2 linked regions of the Homo sapiens genome follow. The protein of the gene in region 2 interacts with the protein of the main gene of each other region in a pairwise test. Each region holds a gene or a part of one and is shown on either strand. Other genes may lie near its edges.

The links.
Region 1: the proteins of AKAP7 (region 2) and C8orf34 interact in a two-hybrid assay, tested with the Homo sapiens proteins (one large-scale study listed by BioGRID).

The regions. Positions count from the first base shown.
Region 1 is NC_000008.11:68,329,464-68,334,059, reverse strand, and holds the start of C8orf34 (uncharacterized protein C8orf34), read right to left. Parts: upstream 3,106-4,596; 5' UTR 3,048-3,105; coding exon 2,721-3,047; exon of another isoform or gene 2,569-2,720; intron 1-2,568.
Region 2 is NC_000006.12:131,281,135-131,284,236, reverse strand, and holds the end of AKAP7 (A-kinase anchoring protein 7), read right to left. Parts: intron 2,708-3,102; coding exon 2,511-2,707; 3' UTR 1,839-2,510; coding exon of another isoform or gene 1,633-1,838; 3' UTR 1,053-1,632; coding exon of another isoform or gene 1,009-1,052; 3' UTR 705-1,008; downstream 1-704. UniProt on the Homo sapiens protein: Probably targets cAMP-dependent protein kinase (PKA) to the cellular membrane or cytoskeletal structures.

The sequences.
Region 1 (4,596 bases), on a different chromosome or scaffold from region 2:
AGAGGATCAAGTATTCTCAATATCAGTGAATAGGTTACTTTTTGCTATTGTTTTAAAAAACATTCATAGATTATCTTTAAAGTATCTCATACCAATTAAGTTTTCTTAAAACATTCCTAACTTAAACTATCCACAAGGGGGACATATTATCAGATACCGCATATTTTCCAAACTGAAAGAAGCCTGTGTCAGCTACACTGACTCAACACAACAAAGCATAGATGACAAGACATGAAGCGGCCAATTTCAATTTGTGAGTGGTAAAAGGAGATTTTAGCTCAGTTTCTCAAAATGTGGCCCAGAAATTAAAATTGTAGCAAACATTTGTGCTGCTTCTAAATATGTTCAGATTGCTGGGCACCTCCTCTGACCCAAATCAATTCCTGTGAAAACTATTGAGTAAGGTCCTAGAAGAGAATGGACGGTCTCTAGGTCAACAATGTCCATTTCACAGGTGGCACTGGTTTTCTAACATGAAACAAGTAGGCTACACGCTAGTAAAATCTTCCAATTTTGTGAAATACGTATAATTGTACTCTCAAAGTCAAGCTCTATCATGATCAAAATTGTTGCATAAGGAACTGTGTTACATCCAGCTTTTATTAAAAGAGAATTTATTATCCATTTTTCTCCCTTCAATTATTTAAAGTGGACATCAAACCTTAAAAAATGCACTACTCATCACTGCAATCTAAGCTAATGCCAGTGTATGTCATATGTATTCAATAAAATACGAAGCATGGTGGTGCTTGTTTTTTGGTGAGGGGACCTAAAGCTTTTATGAGACACGTTGCTATCACTTAAAATTCTTCAGCGCATAACTTGCTGGTGAGCATCAAAAGGTGGGGGTTAGGGGGCACTTCATAAATATCCATTTGAGTTTATTTTCTAATTCTGCAGAAAGTTTACATATATTCCTAATTTTATTATTATTAAAATCTTGGGGATTTTAAGATAACAAATTAAAACAGTATTTATTAAAAACAATTCATTTATTCTCCCAGGCTAATTGTACTTTATACTCCAGGAGAGTAGAGAGAAAACACACACTCTAAATGTATGTATTTTATGATTCTTTCGATGCAATTAATACACTGCGTTGCAGAAGGTTTTAGGCTTCTGCCTTTAAAAAAATTATATAGGATTATGTATAATCAATAATCATTAAACTAAAGGCAAAGAAAAGAAATCTGGTAGTTCCATCAATTTTATTTCGCTCTTGCATGGATTGCCTTTGTTAACATTTTTGGCAGAAAAAAGAATCAAAGCAATTGTAGGACTCTGCACCCCACAATGCGAGCTTCAATTGAAACAATGGTCTTATCGTCTAAGACAGATCAACGTTAAAGTTGGGCAAAAAAACTTAGGAGATCTTGCAAATCTTGTTATGTGAAACCCGTCCTCCCAAAAGACCTATTGGACCACACCTTTGTCCTCCGCGCCCTTTTTTTGCAGGGTCATTAACTCGCATTATTTTTTTGTTCTCCACAGTTCTCACTTGCTTCTCTTCAGTCTTTGCTAGGTTTTCCGCGATCTCCAGTGCAGCCCCTTCCACTTGCCGCGATTCTGCCTCTCTCAGACACTGACACGTAACCTCCTCCCCATACCAAGCCCTCACCCCAAACCAAGCTGTTAAGAACAGCTACAACTGCTTCTGGGAGACGTGGGGGGCGGGGGCAAGGCGGGGGCAAGGCGGGGGCAAGGCGGGAGCACCTCGACCCTCCCGCGAACTCTCGCCGCCGGTCAGTGCCCCCTGAACTGGATGGGACCAAGGGAGTCCCTCCGCAAGGGCCTCCACTTCTGACTACGGTCCGCACGCCCCACCCCTGCTCAGCACCCTGGCAACCCGCGGGACGCTTTGCTGGTGCCAGGCTTCAATCTCTTGTTCTCATTTTCTCGTGTCCTCGCGCTCTTCCTTCTACTGTATTTTTGTCTTAAATTCTTTAATGGCGAGAGAGAGAAAAAAAAACAAAACCAGCTCAGAGCTATAGTCTTCTTCCACAAATACGTGTGTGCTTTTCAGAACCTTTCTCCGTCCCTTTCTCCTGCTAACACATGTGGGGTCTGCAGTGCAAAGGACTCTCCTTTCGTCCAGTGACCAAATGGCAGTCTCTCAGTTTGCCAATTTCATTCATCACGCCCGCACCGACTGAAGCCTACTCCTCACCAGTTCAGCTGTCTTCCAGTTAATTGTATTAACTGCTAAGCACCTCCTCCACCTTTTCGGGTTCTATTACCGCCCTCATTAAAAAAAAAAAAAAAAAAAAAAAAAAAAAGAAGGAAAGAAAAGAAAAGAAAAAAGAAAATCCAACACGAACACTCAAGATAGCGTGAATTCAAAAAAGAAAGTGTGCGTGTGCAACACAGTCTGAGTGTGTGCATCCGTATGCGTCGCCTGCCTCAGCCTGCCCGGGTCCTGAACATGTAGCTGAGAGGTGCAGGACAGTCAGAGGGCCAAAACTTCCCCTGCCAGGCTGAGGCTGGGCCCTCCCGAGCTCACCTGTCCGCGTTCAGGTAACTGGCTAAGTGCCCGCCCGGCCGCGTTCCAGGACACCTGGCCGGGACAGAGCGAATGCCAGTGAATCCCAGGGCGCCCTCTCCCGCGCGTTGGTTCTCTAGCCCTCCTTCCCTGGGAGGGGTGGGATTGGGAGTGTTCTGTTTTCATTACTGCACCCCTTCCCCTAAAGACAACGGGACTGCCCTCCTCCACAGCGCCTTACCTCAAACAGGGGACCGATCTTGTTCTTCTCCAGGTAAGCCTGGATCCGGGTTTGCGGATGAGACGCCATGGGGAACAGATGGGACCGCGAAGAGAGTGCAGGGAGAACGCGCGGCTGTGCGCCTCCGCTGGGGACAACCCTCCTTTTACCCGGACTGGGGCCGGGACAGGAGCTCCGGAGCCTCGGCTGCCCTGCGTGGCTGGCTCGGCCCCGGCCGCGGGCGTGGGTGGCAGCCCGGGGAGCCACGCGCGCGTGGGGCGCTGAGAGCCGGAAGCCTGGGCGCAGCGCCGCCAACTCAGACAACTCCGAGGCGAGGGGAGAACTCATTCATCGCGTTCTCCGCCTCGCGCCCACCCTCGCCGCTCTCCGCAGCGCCCGGCGCAGTGGGGAAATTCGAGGCAGAGGTTCCTTTCTCCTCTGGGCGGCAGCAGCAGGAATCAGGGGGCGGGAGGCGAGCTGTGTCGAGGGGCGCACGCGGGCGGACAGGGGCCGCGGGGCTCGAACTCGCCACCGGTGTGTGTGCGTGCGTGCGTGTGTGTGTGTGTCCGTGCGCGCGCGACTGTGTGTACCTCCTTTCCCCGGTGACGGAACAAACAGCCCGGGCTGCTCCCCGAGGCTGCTCGCCCTACCAGCCGCTCCCTAGCGACAGCGCCGCTTAAAAAGCCAATGGTGAAGGTGCTTCTTTCAAAGTGCACATAAATCTGGTGCTTGTTGGCTACTCCTTGGCAGCTACAAATGCAGTTCGAAAGGGGATCGTCCCCACCGCCCCTTCTGAGCCTCTCCTCAGCACCTTCTGCCCTGCCTACTCTAGCGCAGGGGTTGAGAAGGGCAGAGTTTTGAGAAGGTGCGTGGGTTTAAGGGTTTGCCGCGAAAAAGAAGTTGCCTTCCTTTTCAAAATCTGGTTTGGCCTGGAGCAAGTCGACGGGTGAACGCAGCCTGAGAACCCAGCTGAAAACTCTCAAAGTGCAGGAGCTCAAAGGCTGGAACCAGCCTTTCAGCATTTGACAGGGAGAAGAGAAATGAGCGAGCCAGCCCTCCCCTCCAAAGTTGGCCTTCCTAATCCACGCCTTGAGTCATGTCTGTATACCTATAACTGCATCTCAGACACCACACTATCCCACTTCATAATGTTTCCTCTAGATACTGCGTGAGCTGCTCAAATTTAGCCAATACCTTTCTTATTATGCAGGGATTTCCGAGTCGAAGGTTTGCAGATAGCCCAGGCTTCCTCACAGAGCTCTCTTTCTTGTGAAATACAATACTAAGGTCCCAATGACAATTTCCCTGGCTCCTAACCATGATGTGCTGCCAAAATTAGATTTATTTCTAATAAATATAAATTTTCAGAATGATGGAAACAGTTTTCCTAAAAGCTGACTGCAGCAGTATATATTTTTTTCTTTCTTTCTTCACTGTGTTCTGGATTTCTGTTACTCATAGTTTCTTTATTGGTGTTCATGTTTTCCTTCTGTATTTTAAATATGTGGAAACATGTAATAGATAAGTGTGGAATATCCCAGGAACTATTATTAATTTCATGCATTAAGACATAAGAAATCTGCTAGAATAGCTAGGAGCTTAACCATCCCTGATAACCTGAAATGGACTTGATCCAGAGTGGAAAGATGTCCACATTAATACTTTTACAATCGGACTCATATGATCTGCCTAGGGAGGGTTAAGTTAAATAGCAGTGAGGTGTCCAGGGTTGCCTCGTGCTTTCCATTTTGGTTCGAAGGTATATTTACTTATGTATTTTTTAATGTGTCCAGGAGAAATTAAATACACAGAGTGAATACCAACATTTCTATTTGCTAAAAGGTATAGCGTAGAGCCATAAGGAAGGCCATCTATGACCCAGCTAAAAAGCCTACTA
Region 2 (3,102 bases):
AAAAAGTATATACTATTTTAGCCTTTCAAATTATCTAGATGGACTGGGAATCGCTCCCAGAGGATATCTGTATATACACGCTGAGAAGTGCCTTCTCTCCAGAAATACTGTTCACTTAGATTATGGGGTGGTAAGGATAACACCGGGGCATTGACATAGAGCCCCAGGTGACAGTTCAAGTCCAGTTCCCTGATAGCAGTGGGGCCCTGGATAAGGCATGCCACCTTTTGGAGTCTGTTTCCTTGTTTGAAAAACAAGGCAAGGCCAAAACTATCTTTGCTTTCTACCTTAAGGATTTACTTAAAGAAGCCATTTACAAACAAACAGTCAAGCCCTCTACCACTGAAAAGGGTTTCATGGCAAACAGCTCCCAGGATTCTGCACCTGGATGGACCTCCACTTTTCATCTTTGCTAGGATGTCACATCAGTGACACATTCTTAGCTGTTTATAAGACGCTATTTAGATTTTCTTTGAATTTAAGGTTCTGTTGTTAATTCTCTGTGAAGCTGACTGATTTGATATGATTTTAAAGGGTAAAGTTGAAGGTGCTTTGACAACTGTGCTCTCTTAGCATGAAGGACGGGATCATAAAGGTGAAGCAACACTGAAACTAAACTATTGGAGCTCCGATTTATGACTTCGTTACGCCAACATAGATCCAACTACTCTCAAGAGTGAAAAAAAGAAATGAGGAAAAGCAACAAGGGAAAACAATATGTTTATTAAGAGCCATGAAAATGCATAAACTCATTTGTAAATAAATGTAGTATAATTTACCCAGTGAAAAAATAGCTAAAATCCATGAGTAAACTGGATTTTATATTTGAAATGATTTTACATATTTGATCTCCAGTGATTTCCCCTCCATCATGATCTACTCCATCAATGACTATAGAAAAAGTTGTTACCAACAATCATCATACCGGGGAAGTTTTTCAAGATGCTCTTTCAAACAGAAGCAGTGCAAACAAGTTCAGATGGCAAGGGATACGATAAGACCTGGAGCTTATCTTCGGACACGTAAAAAATAAAAATCCCAAACATGTATTCCTTAAGAAATGAAAAAGCAGAACAACATTTTGATCAGTGAAAAATATTATAAGGATATATAAAACATTCTTAACCAGTGATCGCAATAATTACATTTATAAATGTTCATTCAAGTACTATTGTTCAATAAACATTCAAATTCTCATTAAAAGTAACACTAGATGTAGACACACCTGGACAACGCTTCTTTTGATTTAGCAACAATTGTGTCAACAGGAGGCAAGTGACCCTTAAAATACTGTTGTTGGCTCTGTTTTATTCTGTTTGTGAATGATTTGTTCACAGTCTGTATGTTTTTTTCTGCAAGGACCCGAGAAATATCTCACAACAGCTAATTAAGAAATCATTTCTATAAAATAACTCTCAATATTACAGAAACAGATATTCTAAAACACAAGTGTAGCTCAAAAAATAATTGGGCAGAATCAATTTTCTTTGGCAAGAAATTGCTAATTCCTCACCAAATGTTGGTTTGCTGTTGTGCAGACACTATCAGAAACTTCTTTGGTGTTTACCAAAGAGCTACTTAATAAGCTGAAAAGATTTCATAAGCTATGTTGTCACAATCGCAATGTAGAGCTTATGTCAAAGTTGTGCTGAAATCAACGTCATTTGCTGAATTACTGTTGTTAATAAGTCTTCCTTCAAAAAGCTCCCTCCTAATTCTGGCCTGAGTCTCAGGCTTTAATAAAAGTTCCTTTATCTGTTTCACTTTGGACTTCAGACCCATCGTTTCTCGATGCAAAGCTTCATTAATTAAGTCTCGAATTCCAATAGGTTTCTTGCCTAAGAAAAAAAAATTATATAATAACATTTCATTAAATATGGCATACTGACTTATCAAAATAGGATTTTAAAAAAACTTTAAAATGTTGCCCACATTTTATAGAAAAGGTTGCATTTCACCAAAAATATATCATTTACATGAAACATAATTTACTATAAATAAAGATCACACTGCATAGCAACAGCACACTTAGGACAAACATGAAACATTATGGACTAATTGTACAGATGACAATTCCAACAGTGATTATTTTAAACTTAGCACTTGATAGCTGTGTGTGAGAGTTCTGGCCTCAGATAAAGTAGTCAAATGCCCTGCTAAGCAATATAAATGGCAGTATTCCATTGATGGCAAGGCCTCTTTCTCGGCCTTTAATTTGCGTCCAGGAGGCATAACCCAAAGTTCCCTTTCCCTTGTGCGTGGCTGAGGGCGAATGAAACTTGGGCCATTCTTCTTTCATCAATTAATTTCCTCTGCCAGTCCCAGCACTCCATTTTTCTTCTGTTGTGTTTCAGCAATGCGAACACATCGATCATGAAAAGTATTAGGCAATCTTCACAGATTGCACCAGAGAAACTTAACTTAAACAGCACGCTGCAAGTCAGTCCCTAGACTCAGCAGAGGGAAGCAGGGAGGCTTTGCACAGAGACATGGGGGCCTGCGTTCCGGGCTCATTTCCTGTTGTTCTCATTGTCATTGCCATTCTGATCAGCTGCTTCGGTTTTCACAGAGCTCCCCTCCCCCGGCTTGTTTTTATTCTGTGTTTCCTCCAGATACTGCTGGACAGCCTTGAGCACCGCGTTCTCCACCAGCCTCTTACTGAGCCTTACTAGTTCAGCGTCATCGGGCTCCCCTCCGTTCTTTTCACCTACATTCCACAATAGAGAAGAGAGGTCACTGAGATCACATTGCCATAGAAACTTGGCATGCAGGGGCCGGCTAGTTCCATTGGTTAAAAAGAGCAAGTGTAAATTGGATCTATAAATTCAAGAACAGTGGGTTGGCTTTTCATTTGGTATTTGCAGAAGCAGGAGCCTGTCTATTCCTGAAGGCTTCAGATTGAAAAGTAGTTCATTAGTCCCAATCTAGACAAGCTCTACCTACCAATGCCGGATGTTTCCCATTTATATGTGAATTTCTGTTCTTCTCTCATCCAAGGCTAATTACTACTACTAACGTCCATGTCCCCACCACGTGGAGTCTCAGACATGTGAATTCACTAAGTAGGCCTATGTCTGCTTCTCATTCTCGAATATCAAATAT